7 linked regions of the Homo sapiens genome follow. The protein of the gene in region 4 purifies or fractionates together with the protein of the main gene of each other region. This does not show direct contact. Each region holds a gene or a part of one and is shown on either strand. Other genes may lie near its edges. The genes, in order: PRPSAP1, CTTNBP2, LAP3, RAPGEF2, ERI3, WDR91 and SEC62.

The links.
Region 1: the proteins of RAPGEF2 (region 4) and PRPSAP1 purify together in Homo sapiens (affinity purification with mass spectrometry; one large-scale study listed by BioGRID and IntAct). This does not show direct contact.
Region 2: the proteins of RAPGEF2 (region 4) and CTTNBP2 purify together in Homo sapiens (affinity purification with mass spectrometry, with the first as the bait; one large-scale study listed by BioGRID). This does not show direct contact.
Region 3: the proteins of RAPGEF2 (region 4) and LAP3 purify together in Homo sapiens (affinity purification with mass spectrometry, with the first as the bait; one large-scale study listed by BioGRID). This does not show direct contact.
Region 5: the proteins of RAPGEF2 (region 4) and ERI3 purify together in Homo sapiens (affinity purification with mass spectrometry; one large-scale study listed by BioGRID and IntAct). This does not show direct contact.
Region 6: the proteins of RAPGEF2 (region 4) and WDR91 purify together in Homo sapiens (affinity purification with mass spectrometry, with the first as the bait; one large-scale study listed by BioGRID). This does not show direct contact.
Region 7: the proteins of RAPGEF2 (region 4) and SEC62 purify together in Homo sapiens (affinity purification with mass spectrometry; one large-scale study listed by BioGRID and IntAct). This does not show direct contact.

Annotation. Positions count from the first base shown.
Region 1 is NC_000017.11:76,351,117-76,355,171, forward strand, and holds the start of PRPSAP1 (phosphoribosyl pyrophosphate synthase-associated protein 1), read right to left. Parts: upstream 2,801-4,055; 5' UTR 2,588-2,800; coding exon 2,418-2,587; intron 1-2,417. UniProt on the Homo sapiens protein: Seems to play a negative regulatory role in 5-phosphoribose 1-diphosphate synthesis.
Region 2 is NC_000007.14:117,866,712-117,870,908, forward strand, and holds part of CTTNBP2 (cortactin-binding protein 2), read right to left. Parts: intron 1-4,197. UniProt on the Homo sapiens protein: Regulates the dendritic spine distribution of CTTN/cortactin in hippocampal neurons, and thus controls dendritic spinogenesis and dendritic spine maintenance.
Region 3 is NC_000004.12:17,604,316-17,608,512, reverse strand, and holds the end of LAP3 (cytosol aminopeptidase), read right to left. Parts: intron 3,926-4,197; coding exon 3,846-3,925; intron 1,685-3,845; coding exon 1,575-1,684; intron 1,114-1,574; coding exon 924-1,113; 3' UTR 543-923; downstream 1-542. UniProt on the Homo sapiens protein: Cytosolic metallopeptidase that catalyzes the removal of unsubstituted N-terminal hydrophobic amino acids from various peptides.
Region 4 is NC_000004.12:159,354,070-159,358,266, reverse strand, and holds part of RAPGEF2 (rap guanine nucleotide exchange factor 2), read right to left. Parts: intron 2,415-4,197; coding exon 2,109-2,414; intron 154-2,108; coding exon 128-153; 3' UTR 1-127. UniProt on the Homo sapiens protein: Functions as a guanine nucleotide exchange factor (GEF), which activates Rap and Ras family of small GTPases by exchanging bound GDP for free GTP in a cAMP-dependent manner.
Region 5 is NC_000001.11:44,223,111-44,226,651, forward strand, and holds part of ERI3 (ERI1 exoribonuclease 3), read right to left. Parts: intron 2,894-3,541; exon of another isoform or gene 2,656-2,893; intron 1-2,655.
Region 6 is NC_000007.14:135,208,585-135,213,292, reverse strand, and holds the start of WDR91 (WD repeat-containing protein 91), read left to right. Parts: upstream 1-1,766; 5' UTR 1,767-1,790; coding exon 1,791-1,913; intron 1,914-3,537; coding exon 3,538-3,717; intron 3,718-4,294; coding exon 4,295-4,502; intron 4,503-4,708.
Region 7 is NC_000003.12:169,983,126-169,987,322, forward strand, and holds part of SEC62 (translocation protein SEC62), read left to right. Parts: intron 1-35; coding exon 36-128; intron 129-2,679; coding exon 2,680-2,740; intron 2,741-4,197. UniProt on the Homo sapiens protein: Mediates post-translational transport of precursor polypeptides across endoplasmic reticulum (ER). Proposed to act as a targeting receptor for small presecretory proteins containing short and apolar signal peptides.

The sequences.
Region 1 (4,055 bases), on a different chromosome or scaffold from region 4:
GCCGGGCGCAGTAGCTCACGCCTATAATCCCAGATCGTCTGAGGTCAGGAGTTTGAGACCAGCCTGGCCAACGTGGTGAAACCCATCTCTACTAAAAATACAAAAACTAGCCAGGTGTGGCCGGGCGCGGTGGCTCACGCCTGTAATCCCAGCACTTTGGGAGGCCGAGGCGAGTGGATCACGAGGTCAGGAGATTGAGACCAACCTGGCTAACACAGTGAAACCCGTCTCTACTAAAAATACAAAAAATTAGCTGTGCGAGGTGGCGGGGGCCTGTAGTCCCAGCTACTCGGAAGGCTGAGGCAGGAGAATGGCGTGAACCCTGGGGGCGTAGCCTGCAGTGAGCCGAGATCGCGCCACTGCACTCCAGCCTGGGCGACAGCGAGACTCCGTCTCAAAACAAAAAACAAAAAACAAAAAACTAGCCAGGTGTGGTGTCGGGCATCTGTGATCCCAGCTACTTTCGAGGCTGAGGCAGGAGAATCGCTTGAACTTGGGACGTGGAGGTTGCAGTAAGCCGAGATGGCACCACTGCACTCCAGCCTGGGTGACACAAGACTGTCTCAAAATAAATAAAACAGATAAGATAAAACAAAATCTTACTGAGCGACAAGTAAAACAGGTAAGGGAAGTATTTATGAATATGTATCATTTATAGTAATTCAAAATCTTTCGGGAATTTGCCAGGAAAGAATCTAAAACAAACAAACAAAAAAAACCCTCACTGACTTTTAAAATGTGCCCTGCTCCCCTCTGCTCTCCCTCAAGGTCAGGTAGGGTAAATCTGAACCACTAGATACACACAGAAGCTTCGTTTAAAGTCAGTGTTTTCGTTGGCCTCAGAAAGAAAGACAAACAATCAGGGGTTAGAAATAGAAACTAGGTAGTAGACTGCAAAAGGATTGATTTGTTTTTTTAACATTCTTCCACTCTCCAAAACTCCAACTATTAAAAAAAAAAACAAGCAGAGCTGAAAAAAAAATGACTAAAGTTTTCCCTTTCTTCTACATTTCCCCCCAGAAGTTTAAGATATATCCCTGCAATCATTTGTCAACCCTAAAAAAGTAACGAAGTAACTCTATGAAAACTGTTTAAAATGTGAAAATGGCTTTAAATATTAAAAGACGAGCTATTCATTTTATGTCTTAGATTTCTAACAAGTGTATGTAGAAAGGGCATATAAGGCTCCTCCTTTATATCAGAGCTCTGGGATTCTCCAAAAGAGCCAACTAGAAAAGAGGCCATTTCACCGGGCGCGGTGGCTGAAGCCTGTAATCCCAGCACTTTGGGAGGCCGAGGCGGGCGGATCACGAGGTCAGAAGATCGAAACCATCCTGGCTAACACGGTGAAACCCAGTCTCTACTAAAAATACAAAAAATGAGCCGGGTGTGGTGGCGGGTGCCTGTAGTCCCAGCTACTTGGGAGGCTGGGGCAGGACAATGGCGTGAACCCGGGAGGCGGAGCTTGCAGTGAGCCGAGATCTCGCCACTGCACTCCAGCCTGGGTGACAGAGCGAGACTCCGTCTCAAAAAAAAAAAAAAAAAAAAAAAGAAAAGAAAAAGAAAAAGAAAAGAGGCCACTTAGTAAACAACTATTCAGAGGGCCACTATGAGCCCCTACTCTGCTAGAACCAGATACTACTTCTACATTATCCCGATCATACAATATTCTCAACCATGCCCATTTCACAGATGAGGTTCAGGGAAATCAAGTCTCTTGCCCACTGACACAGAGCTAGTAAGTGGCAAGGCTGGGAGGGCATCTCAGAGCTGTCAGACCCCAAAGGCGACTTAAGACCAGGGGCTTGGTTGGGTTAAAGACACAAATGACTGATCTTATCCCAAGCTGATTTACAAAGCAGGGTCAGGCCTGTCATTTCTACCACCAGCTCCGGCCCATCTGCCTCCCTGGAATTGCCTTCTTCGCACTGCCAGTCCCCACACCTTTGCTCTGCGACCGCACCTGCCGCGTCGGATCCCCCAACTCACAACCACGCCCGCGGGTCTCACTGCAGTGAGACTTGAGAGTGGCGGCGGTCAGATTCCCAGGTCAACTCCAGCCGTGGGAAAGGAAGCCAAGCCCTGAGCCCCTTTCCCCAAGACACGCACTCCGGGGCTCCAGAAAGCTCGGCCCGCCCCGGGGTGTGGGACTGCGGAGACGAAAGGCAGGCAGGCCGCGGACCCAGTCACGGGGCGGGGGGCTGAGGTCACCGAGAGTCCGCCCCAAGCCTCCCAGCTGCAAAACCGGGGAGCGGGGGGCGGTATCCGTCACCTCCAAGCTTTGTCCGGCTGGGAAGGCCCGCGCCTCCCGCCCCAGGTGCAGGAGGTGGGGCGGGTGGAGGGGAGCGGGTCCCTCCGGGCGCGAAGGAGAGCTAGGCGCCGCCGCCCCCGGCCCGGCCCTCCCACCGCCCCCTTACTCTGTGATGCGCTTGGCCAGCTCCGTGCAGGCGGCCGTGGAGTTGGCCGAGAAGACTCGGTAGCCGGTGCGAGCGGCGTTCATGGCCGGCGGGGGAACGGGGCGGGCGCGCGGGACGCGGAAAGCCGAGGACGCGGAGGGCGGGGGCAACAGCAGCAGCTTCTTGGGCATCGTCCGGCCCGCGGCGCGGTTACGACCGGCCCCGCGCGGGGCTGCACTCTGAGTGCTTCCGACTGCGAGACCCCGGTTTGGGTGGGGAAGGCGCTGAGAAACTCGGCGCAAGCGGGGAGAGCTCCGAGGTCCGTGCCCTTGCGCACCCCACACCACTGACTACAGCGGCCGAGCCTTCGCAGCGCCCGGCGCCGCCGCCTCAGAGCCAGAGGCAAGGCCACCGCCCCCTCCGGGCATCCGAAGAGCGTCGGCTAGAGCGCCCTCAGGCCGCCATCTCGGATGAGGGCAGGGAGCCTGGCGACTCTCTAAAAGCCTGTTCTTCCGAGGGGCATGTCACAGGTTCGCCCCGCCCCTGCTTTGACCGCTTCCACGGGAGCTCTTTCGGTCTCACTTTCTTGGGAGGAGCAGCCTACCTCGGTAGTGGCCCCAGGTGTTTCCAACTTTTTGGCCAGGACCCAACATGTCCGCCTCCGAGGAGGTATACGATCTAGCTCTGCATGTCTATGGTAGCACAGCGCCCGCCCCACGAGGCGCGTGCGCCGGCCGGAGATTAATTTGAAAAGTAGAGGGCGGGGGTTCTTTCCAGCTGGTTGACCGCAGTACTGAAGCGGCCAAAAAGTGGTCTTCTCCTGAGCCTGATCTTTCAGGCGTTTCCGAACAGATCCCCAACCCTGTGTCTGCGTGTAAGGCAAGGTTCCCTGAACGTGCCAAAGGCCCTCTTGCCGGTATTCGCTTTCAATCAAAAAAGCCCTCCTTCTCCTCTTTCCATATGCGCCACCCCTCCGAGACCCACTCGCGATGCGTCTGTTCCACAGTCTTTCTGGTGACCTCAACCACAGTAAGCCGCCCGGCCCGCGGGACTGTGCCACACGTAGATGCTTGCATTTTTTAAATTTTTGTTGTTGTTGTTATTGTTTTGATGCTTGCATATTTATGTACCTTTGCAAACATCTATTTTCCTAACTAGGATGTAACCCATTTTACGGCCACATCGTGAGTTCCTTTTTTTTTTTTTTAATTTTATTATTATTTATTTATTTTTTGAAATAGGGTCTCCCTCTGCCGCCCAGGCTGGAGTGCAGTGGCGCGATCACGGCTCACTGCAGCCTCTACCTCCCGGGCTCAAGCCATCCTCCTACCTCAGTCATTCAAAATGCCGACATTACAGGCCTCAGCCATCACGCCCCGCCAAGATCGTGTATTCCTGAGTGCTCCGTGTTACCCAGTGTATAGGGCAGTGTGTGGGCTCCAGAGGCCCGCAATCAGTACTTGTTGAAGTAGAAAGTAAAGCCCAGGGAAGCATTTGAGATCTCTAGTTATCAGCTGCACCAGAACTCGAGGGGAGGAGAGGTGCCTCTCACATTGACAGTACCATCTTCTGAGAATGTCCTTTAGAGACTCTGCTTGTGGTGACATTGGGCTTGAGGGAGCAGTAGATTGTGACTCAGCATGTCGTGAAGGACCACAA
Region 2 (4,197 bases), on a different chromosome or scaffold from region 4:
ATCCCCTAAATGTCCTGATTTCATGTACCATCAGGGTAACTGGATTACTGGACTGAGGAAATTCATTTAGGTCATTTCCTGAGCCTAAAAGCGTTTGTGAGGTACTTGAGGAAAACTGATTTTGCCTCTTTGCTCAGAAGTTAGAGAAATGTATTTTCCTCCCAGTTTAATAGTGCATGCCAATAATAATGCATTTAGAACTTTCTATGTAAGCAAGATTTATGCTTTGGGGATGAATAAGGGCTATCAAAAAGGAAAAGCAATGAAATCAACTTGAAAGTTCACCATCACAATGCAAAGGCTGTATCACTGACATGCAAAATATTAAATTCACCTCTCTAGGTACATAAGAACATGCACTATATTAAGAATTCAGCTAATTGTAAGGGTTTTCATGAAGAAAAGTACATACTTCTCAAGATCTCAAAGTATTTTCAAATCTCTGAAGTTACTTCTTGCCTTGAGATTATCTTCCCGATTTCTCTCTCTACAAGGAGGAAAGAATTTTTGTGATGGGGTTGCATACCTCTGATGCTGCTCTTCCTAATCCTCCATTCTCCTCTGATTCATCTGGGTACTATCTTTCTTCAGCACATAGCTCAAACCCACTTTTGAATGTCTTTCCAGACTCCAGAAATCTCTTGTTCTCGCCATTCAGTCTTAAAATCTGCTCTATTACTTCACTTGGCAGTTAATCATGTCCGGCCTTGTGCATTTCCTCATAGTAAACTTATTATCTCTATTAACTCTATTTTCTCACTCCTACTAGATGTGTCAGGACAGTAAGAACATTACTTCTTCACTTATTTTATCCAACATGCTCCCCCTGCCCCCACCCCACCATATACACTTTGGGTATAAAATGTCTACTGCACACAGTATGAAAACAGAAAGTGTGCAAAGGATGTCTCAGGTACATCCATCTTACTAAGATACAATGTTTCAGCCCACTCTAGGGGGAACTAAGTAACTGTATTAGATGATTCTCTCAGTGTTTCAAAAATCATTTAGAGTAACCTAAACTAGGGAAGCTGCTTGATGTTCCACTTTAAAACAACATATAGTACGAGAACATGAGATCTATTTGGTGTCAGCTCTCCAAGGTCATGCACCTCAAATCAACCACACTGTCTGGGGTCTTTGATGCAAGACAAGAAACTCAGTGTATTGAAAGGAGGTAATACTGACAAGGAAACAATGTCAGGAAGGAAACCTGGTAATGGATGTAACTAATTTTAGCTGAGAAAGCTGGAAAGAATGGCAGAAAAGTGGCTCAGGGGTGACAGCCTCTGATAATTAAGCTCAGCTACCTCCCTTTTCCTCCTTTCAGATCTCCCCGCAGTCTCTATTTCCTCCTTAGGGAAAAAAAGGACTACATCTCAAATAAAACAAACATCTATTTTCACCCTAACTCAGTTTTTCGATGTGACATCAGCCCGACATGGGACATGGATCAGCTCCACAGGCAAGCAGACATTCAAATGTAATAACCATCCTTTAAGAAGCTTACAATGCATTAAAGAATAGTCTTGATTATCTGTAGGTGGCAAATATCTGCACGCTGATTTTCAAATGAAAAGGCTGGGCCAGATGAAGACGCAGGCCTTTGGAACCATCTTGTCTTTTCAATGAAATATAAAAATGTCAAAACCAAATCATCTGCAAACAAGTACTCACTCTACACAGCAATGTTACCTCGACTACTCTACATTTACTATAACCTTTTAAACTGATCCCCAATGTATTAGTTGGTTACTAACAATTTATTTAAAGAGAGTATCTCCCCCTACTCTAAAATCAGGATTTCTATATGGAAGGCATCATGCTGTACACGGCATTAATAATATGATCTCATTATTTGTGTAAGTTATTTAAAACATTAAAATTTTAAAAATCTTTCAATATCGATGTCATCATCATCGTCTCTCGTACCTGTCCTCTGATTCCTTACCTAACTACCAACAGAAAAGACAAATCTTTTTCCATGTTACATAAGCTTTGCAAAGGAGCACCAACAGAGAATAATGTAATCGAGTATGTTCAAATAAAGTATCCTTCTAAAGCAATACTCAGACAGGCCTGGGTAGCAAAGTAAATGAAGTTGGGGGATACTGCTCCATCCTTCCTAGGCACATTCAAAGTTGAAATTCCAGTCCCACATTTCTGTGAAATTGCAGACTATTCTAAAGCCTTGCCTAAACTCCTTTTTTCCTGCCCATTCTTTCCTTTTATTCCCCTTTCCTGTTTCCAAACTTCCCCACATTTCTCTTAACCCCCTATCAATCATCCTCTCCTCCACACCCCAATGGGTGATGTGGCCTTGACTCTTATTATTGGAAGGATGCAGGATGGTAGAGGTGCAGCCTCAATCATCATTTTGAAAAGCGAGAATCTAAAGAGAAAACTAATAGTGTTGGAAATTAAACTTTTAAAAAACCCCTGCAAAGAATCTAAGAAGTCATTGAGAAAAGCAGCTTGGAAAGCGGCAGTATTAAGATGAAAATTTTAAAAGAATTAGGGTTATCTTTTTGGATCAAGATCTATAATATCTATAACATTAATTATTACAAGTCACAGGCCAATAATTTCACTATAAGATAGCTGGTAACACACAAAGTGAGTTTTCTAATTAGCCAATCAACATTAAATTTTATGACACAGCTTCTTGGTGAGCTTCTTTTCATTTTCTTCATTCAGTAAATATTTGTGGAACACTTACCATGTGCCTGGCATTGTGCTAACCACCTTTGCTTTCTTTTACAAACTTCACACAACTCTCCTCGGAGGAGGAGGCTGCTTTCTCCCAGCCACAGCCTTCCTGTCCACATGATCAACAGCAGATATTTGTAAATGTCTAAGTACCAAGGCTGTGAAACATTTTCTCACCTCATAAAGTTATGAGAAACACACAAGGATAGAACCAACTGGTAATCTAGCCCAGGCATGGATTCAATCACTGAGAGGACAAATGTTCTCTAAACAAAATTGCTGCTGTGAGAAATACAATAACAATGACAGCAACGACAATAATAATAAAGTTCAAAAACTGGGGCAAACAGAAATCTACAACCTATTATTTAAGAAGAAAAAAAAAAGAGTGAAAAGCAGGACACTGAAAACAGTTATATTCTCATCTTTGGAAAAATATTCCAGTCAATTTCCTCAACTTCCAAGCTATTTTTCTGAACCATATAGCTGAGACCAGAATGGGAACCTCTATGCTCATCACTGAAAACCCTTCGCATATGGCTCCCTAGGATATGACCACATTTGCACACTCCTTCTTGCAGTGCCGGTCCAAATCCTCCTTCAGTCTCAAGGACTACTTCAAATGTCATCCTTCTATGGAAGTTTCTAGATCCATCCACTAGGGACCCTCTCTATGACTGTTCCTCTCCAAACTTCTAATGCAAAATCATTTTTGCCTCTCATGACACCATCATCCCCAATTTGATTCCTTGGCGTATGTCAGTTTCTATCACTGGAATGTATTACTTTAGGGTAGCAAAGATCATACTCATGATGCCTGTATCTCAGTAAGTGTTCAGTAATGTGTGTTAAATCTACGTTATTTCCTATTTAAAAATTAAGCTGCAACACTTTCAACATTCTATAGCTGCCACGTAACTATAATTTAGTTTAAAAAAACGCTTAGCGCAATTGGCTACGAAAGTTCTTTTCAGTGCATTTACATTCAATACTGTCACCTGGAAAACAAAAATTTCAAGTTCAGCTGTTAATTTGTTTAACATCACTGTCGTGCATTTTAAATCATTGTCCAAGTTTTTCTTTGTCACTGCCACCATGACAACAAATTTTATACCTACTTCTTGTCTATTAGCTGCTCCAGAAAAGCTCAGAATGACAAGAATGTTGGTTGGCTTCCCAAATATAGCTCTAAAAAGATCTCCATTTTCCTTTCATTCCAAAATTCTTTGGTGACAATAAAAAGCATGAAGATTTCGTTTTCCATACTGCCTTATCCATTAGGAGTTATTTTCAGAGTGGAAACAGCAATATGGCCTATAAAAGTCATCACATTTGGCTAAGGCACTGAAAATAGCCCAGGTTTCCCGGCACGGTTCACGGCAAAGACTATTAATATGATCCTATTGAATAATGTAGCTGTTACCCAGCCTTAAACTTGGGATGCTTTCAGGATTTAAACAGCTAAGAATGAGGATCACAAACTAAATT
Region 3 (4,197 bases), about 140 Mb from region 4:
TGGCCTGTGGTCATGTTTCTTACTTCAGTACTTCAAATAAATTCTACATCCATTCAAGTCACTGAACTGAAAAAGAGCACTGCAGTGTACCAGTGCAGCAGCCAGACCACCTGGCTTGAACTTTGAGCTACCAGTTACTTGCTCTGTGACATCAGTGGCATGTTACTAAACTTCTCTTGTGCCTCGTTTCCCTCATCCGTCATATGAGGGTAATAACAGTACCTGTCTCATTGGGTAGGACTCAATAATTTAACACCTGAAAACACTGAGGACAGTGCCTGGCAGATGGTAAGTCAACAATGGTTACTATTATTCTGACTGATTCATTTTGGAAATCATGGGCCAAGCCACTATTACCCAAACTGATGAGCTCAATCCCTGAGTACCTTTAAGTGATGAGGAACATTGAGAAAATACATAAGCCACTGTGCCCCAATTTAATTACATAGTTCATACAACATGGCTACAGAGACGAATGATATTCTAGTAATAAGTTACTGGGTTTGTAGCAATATGTAAGTAAATATCAGAGCCACACCAGAGAGCACAACAAGTTGCATTTATTGTTTCTGACAAGTGCATAGTAATTTTCAGTTTGCTCATGTTCCTAGCATCACAAATCTGAGTTACAATTTTGCTTCTCAATGAAAAACATATACTCTGAAAAGTGATTAGGAAGTTCTAAAAATTTTAATCATTTATAGAGTATCTTAAAAATCCTTATCAAGTAAGATATTAACTTTACCTTTATAAATCTTTGTGTGAAATGAAAAAAAAATCAAGGCATACAAATTTCATTGTGTTCTACATTTTTAAATACCATCCTTTGTCTCCGTTAAAAGATTTTCATCCATTTATTCAAAAACCTTTTAAGTTCAACTGTCCAATTTAAGACAGAGTGAAGACATTTTTGAGTATCTGAACTAAGCATTGTCTTGACTGAAACGAAGTAAGAACTCAATGAGAGTCCTTGTGGGCCTCCCAGTCATGCCTTTCCGTAGATAGGGAACTTCATCTTTGTTGGTCATCACGCCTGCTATGTCTAAATGTGCCCACTTAGGATGAGTTACGAATTCTTTCAGGAATGCTGCAGCTGTACATGCTCCTGCAGATCTGAAGAGAAAGACAAAAAGCACTTTACAACCCCATGTAAATGTGCACTGAGATCCCACATTTTTGCTAAGTACATTCTATAACCAAAGAACAAGAGTCAAGCTTGTAAGACCTATTAAGATGCTAACCCACATATCAGTTTCAGAATATTTATTTTCAGATATTGCTTTAAGCAGTAAAGGATAAATTCTATATTCCTTTTTGCTATGGTAATGAATTCCCATATTTTCCATCTCTTTCCCTTACCATTTATTGAAAATTACCATTAGATTAGAAATATGCAAATTTTGAAATCTGGTTGAAGAAATACTTGAAAATTCAAGACATTAAAAATCTTACAAGCACTACACCAAAAGGAAATTAAATAGTTAAACCTTTTATATAAGGGGATAAAATTGAAAATAGCTATTTTGGCAATCAAGGATGATTGTATAAATGTACATTTAGCTTAGCTTACATACCTGTATTTTCCAATGTTGTTAACATCAGCAAGCTGGCAATCTACAACCTGTCTTGTATAATGTTCGAAGAGAGGCATCCTCCAGACACGGTCCCCTGTTTCAATGCTGGCCTAGAGAACAGGTATGACAGGTGGAAGAGTGGATGAGGCAGGTTGTGGGAAATTCATGGCATTAACATGCTCAATGCATGAAGGAAGAGTTGTTCTAACCTGTTACTCTAAAACATGAAACTAGAAAATAGGTTTCAGAATTGTGTCCACTCATTAAAAGATTTATTTTAGAACTATAAAAGAAACCAGGAGGCTGGGGACAGTGGCTCACGCCTATAATCCCAGCACTTTGGGAGGCCGAGGCGGGTGGATCACGAGGTCAAGAAATCGAGACCATCCTGGCCAACATGGTGAAACGCTGTCTCTACTAAAAATGCAAAAAATTAGCTGGGCGTGGTGGTGCGCGCCTGTAGTCCCAGCTACTCCGGAGGCTGAGGCAGGAGAATTGCTTGAACCCAGGACGGGGAGGTTGCAGGGAGCCAACGGAGTGCCACGGCACTCCAGCCTGGCGACAGAGCGAGGCTCCGTCTCAAAAATAAATAAATAAATAAAAAATAAAAAGAAACCGGGAATGCTGTGAAGCAATTTCACAAATCTGTAGGGCATTTTGCTAAAATCATCAAACTACAATTACAGGCTTTGTGGGTTGATGAGGGTGAAAGAGTTCTTATGTGGCGGGTCACTTCTATGTGACAGAAACACACGACTGGACCTGTATCACTGAAATCCTGAGACAGGATGACCACATTCATTCATTCATCACTTACCCACTCACTCATTCATCGTTTACTGAACTACTGAGCACCACCAGGTGTGCTGAAATACTACCATCTGAGCCACCCAAGGGCCTACAGGCTAGTAGGAGAAACAGATACATAAACAGATTATTTAACTCACTGGTAAAAAATCAAAGACCTAAAAGTGAAAAATCAAGAAGCAGCAATATAAGCTGTTATTTTAAGACATAAGTAAATACCAGATGAATCAGCCAAGGGTTGAAAGTGGCTGCCTTCTGGAAAACAGACTGTGGGCTGCTGATTGTTGATTTATGCACATATAACTGAGATTTTTTTTTTAAAGCTTAAATGTTTTTTAAAAGTCAAAACAACAATATTGTGGGTGCCATGAAAGAGAGGGATAACGGTTATGTGGGAGGCCAGAGGAGAGGTTCCTGGCCCGGCCTGGAAGAAGATGATGGGGCTGAGTATTGCAGAACTGGGAAAATTGGGCTTCGTGAATGATGACATATATGAAGGAGAAGCAGTTTAGAGTGAAAATAAGTTTAGACCTTAAACCACCCTCAGGATTATATTTGGGGACATTTTATGTTTGTCTCCCCTCCCACTGGCACAGAGTAAGCTCCCATTAATTACTAGTTGAATGAATGAGTAAGCAGCCAGCTGGAGCTGTCTAGCAGCCACATGGGTACACAGAGGCTGGGACTCGGGAGAGAGATGGGAGCCATCAGGCAACATGTGTTGGCTGGAGCTTCCATGTGAGGAATGTGTAGAGTAGGAAGAGCCTATGGCCTTGAATTGAACACCAGCCAAAGGGCGGCCAAAGGGAACAAACACGTCAGGAGACAGGAGCAGGAGAATCACAGGAGGCAGCCCAAGAAAGGATTATCACAGAAGCTGAACCAGGTGTCAGGAGGCCACAGAGTCACCTGCTGCCTCAAGACAGGCTGAGTTAGGCTAACAGTGGTGTGGACATTCGAAAACCAATGGCAGTAAGTGAGGGTGTGTGTGTGTGTGTGTGTGTGTGTGTGTGGAAGTGAGGGTGACTGCTGGGAAGAGGCTGGCTGTGAAGGGCATGGAGGGAGGCACAGAGCACAGCGGTCTGAAGACATCCTCATCGATGCAGGGTGAACTCCCTTATATGACTCACGACACGCAGTCACAAACGCTGCTCCACAAAGCCATCTTCAAAACCATTTCTACCTCAGGGATTCTAAAACTATGACCACAGTGTTCGTGAGATATTTTCACAGGACGCTGAGGCTACCGGAGGGGAGCAGGGGGCATCATCCCCTCCTTTAGGAGCATTTGTGGAAAACCCAATGCCACTGAACTCAATCTATTGCTGTGGTTCATTTTCAATTCAAAGGCAAACCTGCGGCATAAAAATCACTTTAACACAGGGTTGAAGAAGTCTATCCTTCTAAGGCTAGAATAATTTATTCACCATCTCTACAATTTAGATATACAAATATTATTCCTACCTCGAAGAGTTTGTTCCAGAGCCAGGATGAATTGGTAAAGACCCCAGTGGCACCTGATCCCAAAGCTACATCCATGGCACCTGTAAGACACAAGCCCTCAGGTCACGTGCAGTCTCTCCAGGCAAAATGGGCTCCTCCGCCACCCAGATGGAAACCTTAGCATGTACCCTATTTAATGGCTTCCTCATTTTCAAAAATAGATAAGCTTAGGAAATCTTTCCTGTACATACTTAACATATTTTTATGTTTTTCAGGCCAGAATTCACTTAAATTATTAGGAAATGCAAAAAAGGAACCTACTGAATTTGACCAATAATTTCATTTTAGGGATAACTGTTAACCTATTTTTGAA
Region 4 (4,197 bases):
TAAGGCAGGGAAGGAGGCAAACTGGTCCACCGTCCTCAGAATGTGAGTTCCAAGGCTCCAATGCTCAGGACGTCTTCTTGTGCTCTCCTTTCAGGTGGCTCGCTCTGCTTCCAGAAAAGTCTGTGCCTCAAACAGCAGAAACTTGTTCATCTTCTGCAAATACAGCAGGGAAGAAAAAGAAATCAATGAGCAAGCAAGTAATTTCTTGTGCTATAGAGAATATATTCACTGATGTGCTAAATAAAACTATCATAGTTATTCTTTTTAGTATAGCTCACTTAGAATCCTTGTCTTTTTTTCCTAAACAATGACGAACAACAAAAAGGTTAAAATGTATGCAATACATATCTTTACATATATACACACAATATTAAAAAGATATGCATTATATATTTTTGTTCAGAAAGTTGTTAAATTCATTTTAAAAAGTTGTAAAATAGCATGTGCCATTTAAAAAAAATATACGATCAGATACACATAAAAAGTCTAGAATATATAACAACATTTTAATAGTGGCTATCTGCAAGTGACAGGATTTTAAGTAATTTTCATTTGTAATGTTTTTCTATTTATTTAATTTAATTTAACTTTTTTGAGACAGGGTGTGGGTTTGCCATCCACAGTGCAGTGTTCTCGGCTCACTGCAACCTCCGCCTCCCGGGCTCAAGCGATTCTCCTGCCTCGGCCTCCCAATCTCCCAGTCACGTGTTGCTTTTTTCTATGATTGTGTAATCAAACATGTTAAACTGAAAACTTTAAAGAAGATGGGAGGCCATGTTCTCCTTCCTCATTCTCAATTCAGCATGGTCAGATAGATTTGTAGAAAGAACGCACAAAGAGTTATAAAGAATGTGGGTTCCTTCCTTCCTTCCCTTTCTCCCTCCCCTTCTCTCTCTCTTTCTTTTAGAGACCGGGTCTTGCTCTGCTACCTAGGCTACGGTGCAGTGGCACAATCATGGGTCACCACAGCCCTGAACTCCTGGGCTCAAGTGATCCTTCCACTTCAGCCTCCATAGTAGCTAGGACTATTGGCACACGCCACCACGCCTGGGTCATTTGAAAAATATTTTTATGGAGACAGGTCTCACTATGTTGCCCAGGCTTGTCTCGAACTCCTGGCCTCAAGCAATCCTCCCACCTCAGCCTCCCAAAGTGCTGGGATTACAGGCATGAGCCATCAGGCTGGCTGATAATGTATCTTTCTTTATCAGACTTTCATTTCCAAATGAGTCCCAATTCATTAAAAGCGCAAATATAATGTTTCCACAGAAAACTTTAACCATCCACCTTTGAGAATCCTACATGCTTCTAAAATTCTTGACAACAGCACAAACTTGTGAAATTTTCATTTTCTTTTCCTTTTTTTGAGACAGAGTCTCACTCTGTCACCCAGGCTGGAGTGCAGTGACATGTTGTTGGCTCACTGCAACCTCTGCCTTCCGGGCTCAAGTGGTTCTCCTGCCTCAGCCTCCCGAGCAGCTGGGATTACAGGTGCCTGCCACCATACCCGGCTAATTTTTGTATTTTTAGTAGAGACAGGGTTTCACTACTTTGGCCAGGCTGGTCTCAAACTCCTGAGCTCAAGTAATCTGCCCTCCTCAGCCTCCCAAAGTGCTGGGATTACAGGTGTAAGCCATCGCACCTGGCCTATTCTTTTTCTTAAAATAGGGTCACAGAAGTACTTCAATTTTAACGAGAATTAGAAAAGAAATCAAGTCATATAAACACTGTATTTTAAGTGACTCCCTCCATAATCTTTGGGATTTTTTAAGCCATTTAGGGAAACACACATACACAGACACACAGAAAGCAATCAAATTTTAGTGAGAATTGGAGAAGAAAACCAGTTATATACACACTGTATTTTAAGTGACTCCCTCCATAATCTTTGGCATTTTTAAAGCCATTTAAGGAAACACACACACACACACAAAAGAAAGCAGTCAACAGCTGTAACCCTAAATTTGGAACTCTGAATGTAGTGTACTTTGTGTAGTATATGGTTAGACATAGCTGACTGCAGTGTTAAGAGAACAGAAATGCCTTGGGAAGCAGCACAAGTGAACACATCTAACTTGGAGGTTTTAGGAATATTTATGTGCATATACCATCCTCCTCGGTGGAAAACCCTTGGGACTGATAGGGGGCGAGGCGCGGGTCAGACTCGTTCGGTTTATGCCACTGAGGTTTGTTCACAGGCCTGCTGCTGGTGGGATGCCCATGTGGCTGCTGTACGGATGAAGGCCCAGCTGTGTCGGAGGATCGTGCGACCATCCGCGATCTCTGAAGGGCCACGTTGTAGTCCGGCGGTTTCCTGGCTGGATGGGAGTGCCCTTCTGGAAAGTCAGTAATGGGAATTCCAATGTAGCCGGGAGGGGTGGGCGGGGGCTCTCGATACCTGCCCTCCTTTCGTGCTAGAGTAGAAACAATGCACCAGCATTAAAAACTAGTTCATGCCACAAAAGTTTATTAAAAATATAAAAATAATTACTAAAACAGCATCCACAGTGTAGCAGCAGATGTGCATTTGCATGGTATCGGTTAGAGGTGCGGTGTGAGGCAGGCCAGGGAATGCATGTTAACTAAACCAAATTTCACAATGATGTTATCTTTGTGTGGTGAAATAATTGGTGAGAGAAGCTGCTAGTCCATCTAAGTACTTTTATCTTTAAATGGGCTGCTTGTCCATTTAAAATGGTCTGTAACTATAAAATAGTAAGATTAAAACCTAACCCCTGGATTTATTGGAAAGACTGAAGCACAGGAAGAACCTAAGTACACAGCACTATGCCTAGAACCTGTTTGTGCTTGGTACAAGTTCCCTTTTTCCTCTCTGCCTGCCGGATCTGCCCTCTTTCTGGGCATTTATCTTTACCAGGCAGAGAAGCAATTCTACATCACTCTCGGGTCTCAAGACTTCACTTACAGAAACAGTGAATTAAAATAAATTTGGAAAAGTCGCACAAAGGATACCAATTTAAAAATTCTAAAACTATTACTATAAGGTGTCTATTTTTCTTAAAATCCCTTTATTGATGCTCATGACCTAGAATATGAAACCTGTATAGGCCAGTAAAACTAAAGTTTCATTTTCTTGAACTTTTAAAACTCAATTGTTAGGAACTAAAAATCATTCTTCCTTCCTTTGCAATAAAAATTCTGAGTATTAGTTGTAAGCACTTGAAAAAGTCCAACCTAAGAATATTTATTAACTGTTTTCTCCTTATTCATTGTAAAAGGATATTAAACTTGAAATCTACCCATGACTATTTACATGGCTAAATAACTACAATTTTCCTACTAATAAAAGTAATGTCCGTAATGATTATACTCCAGAATTTCTCACTCTACAACCTATCATCTGTTCCTACACTTCGTCTATATAGATGTTAATTGTGCCATAGAAAACACATCTCAACAGGACTGAGGGCGCATGAGAGCCTCTTCTAACAGGAACAGCAGCAGCAATAGCTTTCATGTACTTAGTGAATCTACTATCTGGGCACTGTTCTAAATACTTTGCATAAATTTCCTTGAATCCTCACACTAACTCCATTAAGTAGAAATTATGAAGCTCATTTTACAGATGAGGAAACAGGCACTGTTTTGTATTTTACCCAATGTCACAAAACTAATAAAGTGGCAAAACAGGGATTCAATCCCCAGTCCGCCTGACTCCTAAACCCGTGCTCTTAGTCATTACACTATTAGCACCTCTCCCTCCTTCTACAGCGTGCACAAAGAATTGCTTATCAACAATGTGCGTGCAGAATAAAAATCAATGGAAGACTTTTAAGTATACAAAGCGTATAGTTCTAAATACAATCAAGAGAACAAAATAGAAGAATCAAAGATATAAAAGAGTTTCAATTAAAGAAAAATTTCTCCTCTATGAATAATAGGAATCCATCCTGATTTTCAGGTTAAGAGAAAAAAATTAGACTAGATAATATTCACAATGACAATCTACTCATCCTGATAGCTAAGATTTATTGAATGTTTTGTTATATAGGAACAGATCTGTAGGTACCTGACCACAAAACCTGGGCTCTTAACCACTATTGATTTCAAAGACCTTAACACACCACTAATTTGGAAGTCCTACATAGCAATGGAGAAAATGAGGAAAAGAACCAACAAACACATAATTTTACTATTGTAATAAGTTACATTAAAGACATGATCCAGACATGACAA
Region 5 (3,541 bases), on a different chromosome or scaffold from region 4:
GAGGTGACACCTTCCCCCAGGGACTCAGGAAGCCATACGGGCTGGTCTGAGGCAGAACAGTGGAAAGACAGATGGGTGGGTAGTGGCGACCATGGCAACTCCAGACGTGACCCATCCCCATGGTTTATGGGCCGGACACGCACCCCGCTCAGCTGAGGCCCCATCATTTGTCTCTCTTAGTGTGTGTGCCTATGCTTTGGGGGTAGTGGGTGGAGGAGGGAGGGGCTGTGCTAGGCAGTTGACAGGAAGGGGAATGGGACCGGAAGGGGCCTAAGAGGGGGAAGGGTTAGGATGGGGTCCATGGGCTGTGGTAGTGCCAACAGAGAGACTATGATAGGGTGATTTTCTTCCCAAATAAGTCTGGCCCTATCAGGGAACCTCCAATCCTTCCTGTCTCCGGTACCCTAGGGACCGTGGCCGCTGTGCATATTAAGAATAAGTCCCCTCGTTATCTGCAATTACCCAGCGGCCACACACCTCATTTCTTCCAGCAGAAAAGAAAATTAGTTTTCTATTGACTTCATCTGGCTCCTCCCTCATTGCTGGACAAATCGTTCAATTTGCTTCCCCTGGCCCAAGTGAATGTCCCAGCCCCAACCCCCAGGCCACCAGCCATCCAGTGGGCAAGCACTGTTCTCCCACCTGTGCCTGGCCCTGTGCTGGGAGAGGGTCCCCACGTCCCAGTCTCTGTCCTTGACCTCTCCCCACTCTACACACTGGATGGCTTCATCTAAATCGTGAGTTTCAGCTACCCGCTAAAGATCACCTCTCCAGCCTGGACAGCTCATAGGCTCTACACCACATATTCCTGAACATCTCTTTCTAGATAAACCCTAAACGTCCAATCACGAGCTAATTTTCTCTCCAAGCTGCTGCTTACCCCTCACCCTGCTATGTTCTCCATCCCAGTGAATGGCACCATAATCCACCCAAAATGCCCAAAGAAATCTGAGTCATGTTGCCACTTTGCCCTCTCCCTCACTCTCCAAATCTAATCAAGTATGAACTTACGCAGATTTTCTCTTCTTCTCTGCCTAATCATCTTGGATTACAACAGCTGTCCTCTTTCTCCCTCAAATTCATTCTCTTACAGCCAAACTGATCTTTCTTACATAAATCTGATCATGTTCTTCTTCCTTAAAGCCCTTCAGTGGCTCTCCTTGCCCTCAGTTTAAAGTCTACACCAGTAATATGTCTTAAAGGCTCCGCAAAAATTGATCCCTGCTATTTCTGGTCTCTGCCATGCTCAACCCTCAATCCCTGGACTCCAATCTCAAGGACCCACTCACTGTTTTCTGAAAATGACAAAGTGGGTTTTGGAGCCAGAAAGACATGTTTCCAATCTTAATTTCACCCACTGGCTGCATACCACACAGCAAGGGCTTAGCGTCTCTAATACTTAGGTTCCTCCACTAGGGTGATAATGGCCTTGCTGTTATTGTGAGGACCAAACAAGGTGTTGCACCCACATCTTTGCACATGCTGTTCTTTATGCTTGGAATGCCTCCTCTTTCTGAAGAAAAGGCAAGGAAGCTAGTTTTCTGGAGGACCTAGTGGTGAGAAAGTGTATACAATTGATAGCACAGATGACTGATAGGGGCCAGCAGACTTAGTGAAACCAATTGGCATTCACTCCAAATTCTGACTTCAGATCCTGTTTACTGGGTATTTCTGGGGTCTAACTTGTTGCAACTGGCCCACTACAATAAAGAGAGACCAGGGAAAGGAAGAAATTTGCTCCAGTTCACCTAACAAGTCAGTGGAATGGCAGTCATGGGCTTCTAGCTCCAGGCTCTTTTTCCAGCCCTTGAAGCCTTGACAAATATATATATATTTTGTTTTTTAAAGTCTATGGCCCTGCTAGAAAGTGAGGAAGCTTGGCAGAAGAAGCACTAGAGACAGATCTGGGGCTTTTAATAGGCCAAAAATTCAGAGAGAGAGAGCAGCAGGGTGTCTGGTGGCAACACAGTCTCTTGGAAAGTTTTCTGCTTGAAGCTCTGGGGGCCACCTGGGTTAGCAGGCTTGCCTTCCAGCACCTCTCATTGAGCTAAGGAGGCCAGCATGAAGCTGCTGTAGGGTGGGAGTGAGGTGGCAGGGAGCACAGCCTTGCACCCACAATAGAGGCCTCCAAGAGGCCTCTACCTCACCTTCAAATTCTAGAAGGCTAACCTTTGGTTTTGTTTCATTTTGTCTTGCTCTGTTGCCCAGGCTGGAGTGCAGTGGCGTGACCTCAGCTCACTGCAACCTCTGCCTCCAATTCTTGTACCTCGGCCTCCCAAAGGGCTGGGATTACAGGCATGAGCCACCATACCTGGTCAGGCTAACCTGTTTTTATGTTTCTGCAGGATCATCAATTTGTGACAAGATGACCCTCTCCTCTTCTTTTTTGGGGCATTAATATTCTCAGTGTTGGAAATATTTTTATATTGCCAAGACCATAATGTGAGGAGTGCAGCTGCATAAATCCCTGAGAGAAGATTAGTGGGGCTAGCACCTTACAAGGAAAGACAAGCTTGTTGGCTGGGCCCAAGGACAGTCAAATGTCTGCCTGACAATCTCCACACAGAAGGGTTGCTCAGATCACTTAGGACACCCAGAAAGAGCTCACAAAGGGCAAACAACCTAAGGCTGATATTCTCCATTAGCGGTACTTACCTGGGAACTGAGTGGCAGTGGACAGGAAGCAGGGCCTGGGCTAGGGAGACCCTCAGGAGGAAGGGGACCCAAGAAGTTAGAAGTCCATTCATTCATATACTCATTCATTCAGCAAACATGCGCTGACACCTTCTGTATGCTCAGTGATCTTGTACCATATGGCTTCTGAGGGATGTGCAAGACTCTGTAGCTCCCTGCCTTCAAGGAACTCAAAGACAGCCCTGTCAGGTGTGCAGTGCTATGAGAAAAGGACGCATGGAAAAGTTATCTAGTTCTGTTTGAGGATTAAATATTCCAAAGTTAAGCAGAGGTCTTAGGGGATGGGGGAGGGAGCTAGCCCACCTTGTTAGGGCTGGGGTGAGGAAGGTGTTCAATAAATAGTACAGGCACATTTATGGAGGTGAAATGTGGAGTGTCCAAATAAGTTTATCAGATGGGTGGGGGGATGAAGAATCAGAAGGGAGTGGCAACGAGATGAAGCTGGTGGTCAGTGACTGACTAAAGGGAATCCTGAAGAACCTAAATGCTAAACTAAGGAGCTTAAGATGTTAATATTCTGAGAATGATGGACATTGACATGTTTAAGGAGGGGAATGACAGTACCAGATCTTGTTTCAGAATTATGATCCTAGATGTGAGGACAGGATTGGAAGGATTAACCCTGAAGGCAGACAGATCAATTAGCAGATTGTACTATGGTCCAGACCAGAAATAATGGCCCAGAACAGGCCAGTGGCAGTGGAAATGGAGGAGAAGATCTATTGATGATGTGGGGGAAGTGGATGGAGGTAAGAGAATTTTTAGGAAATAGAACGAGCAGTCCTTAATGGGGGGATTAGGACAGCACAGGGGGAGCATCTAGGATCTCAGTGCCACTCACTGAGAT
Region 6 (4,708 bases), on a different chromosome or scaffold from region 4:
GTGAGCCACCGCGCCCGGCCTATTGTCACCATTCTGCAGAAGCAAGTCTCAAAGATATTGGCTATTTTCCTACTTACAAAAATACGTGCACCTTGTAAAAACTTCAACAATAAAAAGAAAGTAAAAAACAAGAAGTCCTTCATAGTCTCACCTCTCAGATAAAACCACTCCAATTGTCACTTGGTATCTGCAGGGGGTTGGTTTTAGGACCCTCCCTAGAAGACCAAAATCCATGGATGCCCTGATGTAAAAAGGCCTAGTATTTGCATCTAACCTATACACTTCCTCCTGTATACTTTAAATAATCTCTACATTGCTTATAATACTGAATACATTGTACATGTTATGTAAATTGTTGTTATGCTATATTTAATTTGTGTTTTTAAAAATTGTATTCTTTTTTAAACTGAGACGGTGTCCTGCTCTGTCACCCAGGCTGGAGTGCAGTGGTACAATCACAGCTCACTGCAGCCTCGACCTCCTGGGCTCAAGTGATCCTCCTGCCTCAGCCTCCCAAGTAGCTGGGACCACAGGCAGCACCACCACGCCCGGCTAATTTTTTTTTTTTTTTTTTTTTGAGACAGAGTTTCGCTCTTGTTGCCCAGGCTGGTATGCAATGGCGCGATTTCGGCTCACTGCAACCTCCACCTTCTGGGTTCAAGCGATTCTCCTGCTTCAGCCTCCCGAGTAGCTGGGATTACAGGCATGCGCCACAACGCCCGGCTAATCTTGTATTTTTAGTAGAGACGGGGTTTCTCCATGTTGGTCAGGCTGGTCTCAAACTCCCGACCTCAGGTGATCCGCCCACCTCGGCCTCCCAAAGTGCTGGGATTGCAGGCGTGAGCCACTGCGCTCCGCATTTTTTTTTTTTTTTTTTTTTTGTGGAGATGTGGTTTCGTCATGTTGTCCAGGCTGGTCTCCAACTCCTGGGGCCAAGAGATCCGCCTACCCTGGCCTCCCAAAATGTTAGGATTACAAGTGTGAGCCACTGCGCCCGGCTATTTTTTATTTTTAAAACTTTGGAAAAAATATTTTCAATCCTCGTTGGTTGAATCCGTGAATGCGGAACCCGAGGATGCAGAGACCCGACTGCATAGGAACTTGGTGTATAATCTTCCTGAATTTAAAAAATGTACACACATACATACCTAATTTTTTTTTCACAAGAAACCAGGACTATAGCGTACATACACTGCTATGAAATTTGCCTATCCTAGCAGTGCATCTTGGTTATCTTGCTGTGTAGCCAATTCGTCTTACTAATGAAAGCAGAGATTTGGGGGAGTTAGCGCTCTCTGAGGACACGCGTGTTGTGGCTTCACGCAGGTCACTCTGCTCTTAGGGCTCCAGCTTCCTCCGTGTAGGAGGAGGGCAGGGGACCGGGAGCTCTGCGATGTAACGCCAACCAACAGGGCGCCGCACCCCCTGCCCGCCTCGGGACTACCTGGGATGTTCTTAAGATCCAGTCTTGTTTGACGTGGGTGGCAGCCGCCACTTTCAGTAATTCAGACAAAGCCGCCGCCGGCGCCGCCAGGACCTCCCCTCGCCACTCCTCGGGAGGGGTAAGGGTGACTCGAGCGGCCAGGCGGGCTGGGGCTGGCTCAGGGGCGGGGCCTCGGGCGGGGAGCCGGCCGAGGGGCGGGGCCTCAGGCTGGTCGCCCAGTGCGTGCGGGCTGGTAGGCCTGTCGCGGCGTGACGTGCTCGGCGCCCGCGTCCGGCCCCGCCCCATTTCTCCCAGGCCCCGCCCCTCCGTCCCTCACCGCACCACCCCTAAAGACGCTAGCGCTGCGATGGCGGAGGCCGTGGAGCGCACTGACGAGCTGGTCCGGGAGTACCTGCTCTTCCGCGGGTTCACGCACACACTGCGGCAGCTGGACGCCGAGATCAAGGCGGACAAGGAGAAGGGGTTCCGGGTGAGAGGCCGGCGGGAGCGGCGCGGGCAGAGGCGGCCCGAGGGAGCCGGGGAGCGGGCTTCCCCCCAGCACTGCCTCCGGGGCGAGAGCGGCGCTGTCACTCGCGCCGGGGCGCCGGAGACCTCAGCGCGTCCGACCCCAGCTTGACGGATGAGGAACTGAGACCCTCAGACGGACAGGACCTGCCTGAAGCCGCCCCCCGAGTCAGGAGCATCGCCGAGGCTGGAGCCCCGATGCCCCGGCTCCTGGTCTAGGGTTCTGTCTCCACTCCAGCCTCCTTGGCCAGGATGGCGATGAGGTTTTAGGAGCCGAGGTTAGGTAGATGGTTGCGTTTTGGCAACAGATATTCGTGTTGGCTTCCAGTGGCAGTGGAAGCAAAGAAGTCTGCAGTCCAAAACGTTAGCTGCGTTCAAGTATCTGCGGTGTTTGTTTAAAATGGCCTCGTCAGGGACTCATCGGCAATTTTGCTTCTGCAGTTGTGGAAGACCTCATGGCACATTAGAGAAACCCAAACTTCCCCTGCTCTAAAATGATTTTCCATTGCGAGGTTCTTGGAATGTATATGTGTGTGATTTGTATGTTTGTGTGTACTGACTTCAATGAGAGGCAGTGAGCTAACAGCAAGAGCACTGGAGGGGAGTTAGGAGATCTGGTTTCCTGCCTGGCCAAAGTTAGTGGCTACTTAGTGGCAAAAGCAAATCATTTCACCCCTCTGGGCTTCAGTGGCCTGATCTATAAACTAGGGGCATTGGATTGGTATTGATATCCAAACCCTTTTCCAGATTCTGTACTCTGCTGTAATTGCTCCTCACAAGAAGGTGACTTCCTTGGCTGACACTCTGAGCAGCTACCACGGCTTCGTGGAACTTTGATGACTTGAAGGAGTCAGTCCATGCACCTCCTCATGATCCTTGGGATCTGGGAATTGTGGAGATTGTCTCATAGCTCTTCTTCACCCCACCCCCTTTTTTAAAAATGTGAGGTAACTGAAACTACAGTTAAGCAACACTGCCATTTTTTTTTCTTTTTTGACAGAAAGTCTCACTCTGTCGCTTAGGCTGGAGTGCAGTGGCACGATCTCAGCTCACTGCAACCTCTGCCTTCTGGGTTCAAGCGATTCTCCTGCCTCAGCCTCCCGAGTAGCTGGGATTACAGGCGCGTGCCACCACGTCCAGCTAATTTTTGTATTTTTAGTAGAGTCGGGGTTTCACCATGTTGGCAAGGCTGGTCTCGAACTCCTGACCTCAGGTGATCCATCCACCTCAGCCTCCCAAAATGCTGGGATTACAGGCGTGAGCCACGGTGCCTGGCCTGATGACACTGCCAAATTGATCAAGTAAGTCAGAGGCAGATCCAAGATCTGGAGCCAGATCTCTTAGGTTCTGGGCCAGAGCCCTTTTACACCTGAAATTTCCGTGCTTGCTAGAGGGTCAAACCACTTCTCTAACATCAGAAAATTACTGAAAAACCGTTGCATTAGTATGTTTTGAAAATTTTATAGATTGCTAACTTACAAATTTTTTTTTACACCCAGAAGCCATGACAAGAGGAAAAAGCTTTATTCCATGGAGGGGAGAATTCCCTTCTGTCCCTTACCACCTTCTCCATCCATGTTTCTCGCCAGGTGGATAAGATTGTGGACCAGCTGCAGCAGTTAATGCAGGTGTATGACTTGGCTGCCCTTCGGGATTATTGGAGCTACTTGGAGCGTCGGCTCTTCAGCCGCTTGGAGGATATATACAGACCCACAATCCACAAGCTGAAAACCAGCCTGTTTCGATTTTATCTTGTCTACACAATCCAGGTGCCTGTTGATTCAGGGGTTCTGCTTCCCTTGGTGGAAGGAGCTCTTTGATCCCAAAATAGATTTTCTTCCAGTTCCTAGGGAGGAATCTGTATGTGACTATGGGAAAGAGTGCAGCAGTTACAGTGCAATTATTTTTGACTGTTTTTCTTCTTTTTTTTCCTTGTCGTCATCTGTAGATCATCTGACTTGTCTTCCCCATTCCTATTTCCTTTTTTATGTTAAGCATGTAAGCTTAAAACAAAGGTGGTATTTTAAAGAATATAAGTAGCTGGGTTAAAGTTTGAGTAATAAAGATGATAGCTGACCTGGAGGAATGAGTCACTTAGTTATTTGAACATCAGCTAGGGATTAATTTTTAGGATGGGATTTATCATTAGAACTTCAGCTTAAACCAGCTTTGAAATGACAAGTTCCTTGAGAAAAGAGTGATGATTTCCTTTATATTATGGAATTTTATTTTGCCACTTACCTGGCAGGCTGATAGTCAAAGGTTGTCTGCTGTGCAATGATGAAGAGTCTTACCTCTGGATTTCTGTCTCTCCTCCCTCCTTGCTACCTCCTTGTGTCTTGGCAGACAAACAGAAATGACAAGGCTCAGGAGTTCTTTGCAAAGCAGGCCACGGAACTCCAGAACCAGGCTGAGTGGAAGGATTGGTTTGTCCTGCCCTTCCTGCCATCCCCGGACACCAACCCCACCTTTGCTACCTACTTTTCTCGACAGTGGGCTGACACCTTCATTGTGTCCCTGCACAACTTCCTGAGCGTCCTGTTTCAGTGCATGCATATCCTTTCAGTTGCCTGGGGCTGAAGGCCCAGCCTGAGGCACCCAGACCTCAGGATCAGTAGCCCGCTGGTCTCCATACAGGCATTTCTTCTACAAAAATGCCCAGGGACCATTTTTATGGGTCACATGAGGGGGCTGGACAAATTGTGGTTGTTTTTGTCAGTAAGCCAGGGAATCATAAATCTTAGTTCTGACACTGTGCTG
Region 7 (4,197 bases), on a different chromosome or scaffold from region 4:
GTGTTATTTCTTCTGTCCAACTTGTGTTTTCATAGGAGGAAACTCCAGGAACTCCTAAAAAGAAGGAAACTAAGAAAAAATTCAAACTTGAGCCACATGATGATCAGGTTTTTCTGGATGGAAATGAGGTGAGAGTAAGCCTATAACTAGAAGTTCAGTTTTCTATAGGAGTTTTTAGAAAGATGTTTGATGCCTTCACTAATAAAAGGAAAAATTTTGAGAAATCTAATTATGCTCTTAAATGTATAAAAGCTACTCCATTTTTAAAAATCAATAATTTCTCTTATTTAGATTTTTAAAAGTCAGATTTGACTGTGAGTGATAGGAAACCTGAAATAAAAGCATCTTAATACAAAATAGATGCTTATTTCTTTTTTATCAGTGAAATCTGTAGGTAAGCTGTACAGATACGTCAGCTCCATGGTGGATCCCAGCTCTTCTTTTCTCCTCTGTCTGAGGCTTCTAGCTAAGGTTACCTTATGGTCCAGAATGACTGCCAATCTTATATCTGCATCGAAAAGAGGAAAGGAGAGTGAAGAATATGTCTCCTCTTTAAGGAGACCAGTTTAAGGACACTGTCCAGAAAGCTGGTAATTTCATTTCTGCTTGAATTCCATTGGCCAGAACATAGTCACATGGTCATGCATATGAGAAGTAAAATCTTGGAAATGCACTTTTTATACAGGATGATTATTTGCCCAGCCGAAATGTAGGGTTTCCATTATTATCAAAGAAAAAAGAGCAGAATAGGAGATAGCTACAAGTCTCTATCTCTTACAGAATGTAAGTCAGACACATCACTTGAGGGGCTTAAAATTTTTAACATTTCTTGATGCTTTATGCTTATCATTTGTAATGGAAGATTTGTATGGTGGTAGCCTTCCATAAAGACTGCTTAATTCAGTCACTTCACCAGTACGTAAACATGAGTTATATACTGGGCATTGAACTGTTGTGAATTTCAGGATATATCCTTTCCTGTTATACCTATACAATAGTAACATCTATAAAGTCATGGCTCCTAGGGTTGTGTGTTTGAAATTCTTACTTGCATGAGACTATCTAGAGTGGGATTGTGGGGGAGGATTATATATCTATAATAAAGTGTCCTCAGGTGACTGATGTGAACCCCTTGTTGAGAACCACTGTAATAGAAATTTTTATTTTTATAGGCGTTGGGAATAGCTTGATAAGTAGGATAAAATCTCTTAATGGTCTAGCAAAGATACAGGCACTTAAACATGTTAATATAGTACAGTGTGGTAAGCATTAATGGTGTGAAAGCACCAGGTAGGAATAGTTAATTTAGTCAGGAAGGATAAGAAGGGTCTAAAGGACATTTGAGCTTAGACTTGAAGATGACTGGCAGATTGCCAGGCGTGCCAGGAAGGAGGTTAGGTCTGTTAGGGAAGGAAACAGCCTGAGCAAACGCATGGGTGCTTGGTATCCTGAGAAGCCTAGATTTTATTCTGTAGAAAGCAGCATGCACTCCATAACTTTTAAAGTTGTGAAATATCTTTTTTAAAAAAACATGTTTTTTTAGAATGGAAACTGGCAGAAGTAATATCTGTGAATCTGATTCCCAAGGAAATGGGCAGAGTAAAATAAGAGGTTAAAGTGGAACCTCTGGTGTTAAAAATTGAAGAACCACGTTGGAAAGACAATAAAGAGTTCTGGTCAATATAGAAATAAGAGGGAAGAGTACTGTTATTTATAGAAACTAAGAAATAAAACTGAGTTTTATGGATGAATGATCAAACAGAGTTCTGATCTGAATGAAGTAAATTTCTGTTGTGTAAAATAAGAGCCTGATAAAAGTAAATTAAGTTTTGAAGTAGTGGTTCCCAGCTTATGGGCCCTCCATGGAGGAGTAGGCAATGAAATTAATACAGTCATAGAGACTATGTTCACCAAGCATGATCTTTAATAATTGATCTTTGTGTCTTCTCAGGAGAGAAAAGTGTGGAGTTGAGTGATACTAGATCTGTAATAGGGCCTGGCTGGAATCTGTCTTAACTGCGCTTTTATCCCAGACTGGTTCATCATTACATTAGGGACAAAAAGGTTGGCAGTTGCTGGTGTTTTGGTTGAATAAATAATGATGTGCACACATGGAACAATTTTTTTTTCCCCCAAGACAGAGTCTTGCTCTGTCGCCCATGCTGGAGTGCAGTGGTGTGATCTCAGCTAACTGCAACCTCTGCCTCCTGGGTTCAAGCAATTCTCCTGCCTCAGCCTCCCGAGTAGCTGGGATTACAAGCGTCCACCACCACACCTGGCTAATTTTTGTATTTTTAGTAGAGGCAGGGTTTCACCATGTTGGCCAGGCTTGTCTTGAACTCCTGACCTCAAGTGATCTGCCCGCCTTGGCCTCCAAAGTGCTGGGATTATAGGCGTGAGCCACCAAGCCCAGTCAAACAAATTTTTAAGTGTATGTAAGAACATACAAATTTACTTAAGTGCTTTATAGAATTTATAGTTATCCTATAATCATTTTCTAGCGCCAGAAGAACCACTACTACTGAAGGAAAGATCTTTGGAATTTATTTACCTTAGAAATTACTTCTCGTATGTTAAGAGGTTGATGACTGCTTTAAGGGACCTAAAATATAGAATTAAGCATTACTTTCTAATGTGACATTAGAACTTTTAAGCACCGAGGTTTCTTGATTCTTCTAGGTGTATGTATGGATCTATGACCCAGTTCACTTTAAAACATTTGTCATGGGATTAATTCTTGGTAAGTAGTGAGATGTTAATAGCTATAAAGTGCAATCTAAAATTTAGAAAACAATATGCAGATACTGTAAAAGAAAATGTTCCTAAATTTAACATAAAATAGTTGTCATTTTAAAAATACTTTAAATAAAGTCAGAAGATAAATAATACACTAAGGAAAATATTTGAAACATATTAAAGATCTTTTAAGAGATTAACAAACTGATAGAAAAATGGTCAAGGTAGTTAACAGATAAAGAAATACAATGACCAATCATCATGAGTGATACTTAATCACACTCATATACAAATTAAAGCTGTAGTGATTAAGAGTCTTGCAAACCTTAACATTAAAGGTCTTAGAAAAAAATCAGCTCTCTCTAACAGTTGATAGGTATGTCTATTGTTTTAATTTTTGTAAAGGGCAGTTTGTCAGTATCTTTGAAATTTTATGTGTCTGCAGTGACCCAGCAATTCTAGGCTGTTCCCATACAGTTGCACAAAGTGTGTGCATTGACACATTATCTGTTTTTTTCCAAATCCCTTAGACTATACTTGAGTATAATCTAGCAAATATCTTTCAAATTCAAAATGCTTATACCATTTGATCTAATAAATTCCACTTTAAGGAATTTACCCTATGCCATAATCACAGTTGCACAAACGTACATGTGCAAGGATATTATACCTAGAATAGATAAAAAAAGAAAAGAAAGTTACAGACGAGTAAGAATAGTATAAGCTCATTTACTTATTTAGAAAAAAAGTCCCTGTAGCTAGTTAATTATATATAGGCAGTCTCTGAGAATACAGGTAAGCTTAATAGTACTTAACCTCTGGGAAGTGGAATAAGAATTAGATGAAGACTTAATTTTCTCTATACCTTTTGATTTGCTTGTTTGTGACAGGGTCTCATTCCTGTCACCCAGGCTGGAATGCAATGGCACAATCATGGCTCACTGCAGCCCGACTTGCTGGGGTCAGGTGATCTCCCACATCAGCCTACTGAGTAGCTGGAACTATAGGCACACTCCACTACACCCCGCTAATTTTTGTATTTTTTTGTAGAGATGGGGTTTCGCCATGTTGCCCAGGCTGGTCTCAAACTCCTGGGCACTTGCCTCGTTGTCCCAAAGTGCTGGGGGTTTGATTTGTTTTTGATTTGCTTTTTAACGTGTGTATTCCAGGAGGTTTTATGGGGAAAGAATGATTTAACAAACAGAAAAAAAAAAAATAGGTAGCAGTTAAAATAAGCTTGGTCAATATGGTATGATAGGATCCCATTCAAAATAACTCTTTAAGGCTGGGCTCAGTGGCTCACACTTGTAATCCTAACACTTTAGGAGGCCAAGGCAGGGAGATGGCTTGAATCCAAGGGTTCGAAACCAGCCTAGGCAACATGGCGAAACCTCGTTTCTACAAAAAATTAGCCGGGTGTGGTGGTTCACACCTGTAGTCCCAACTACTTAGAAGGCTGAG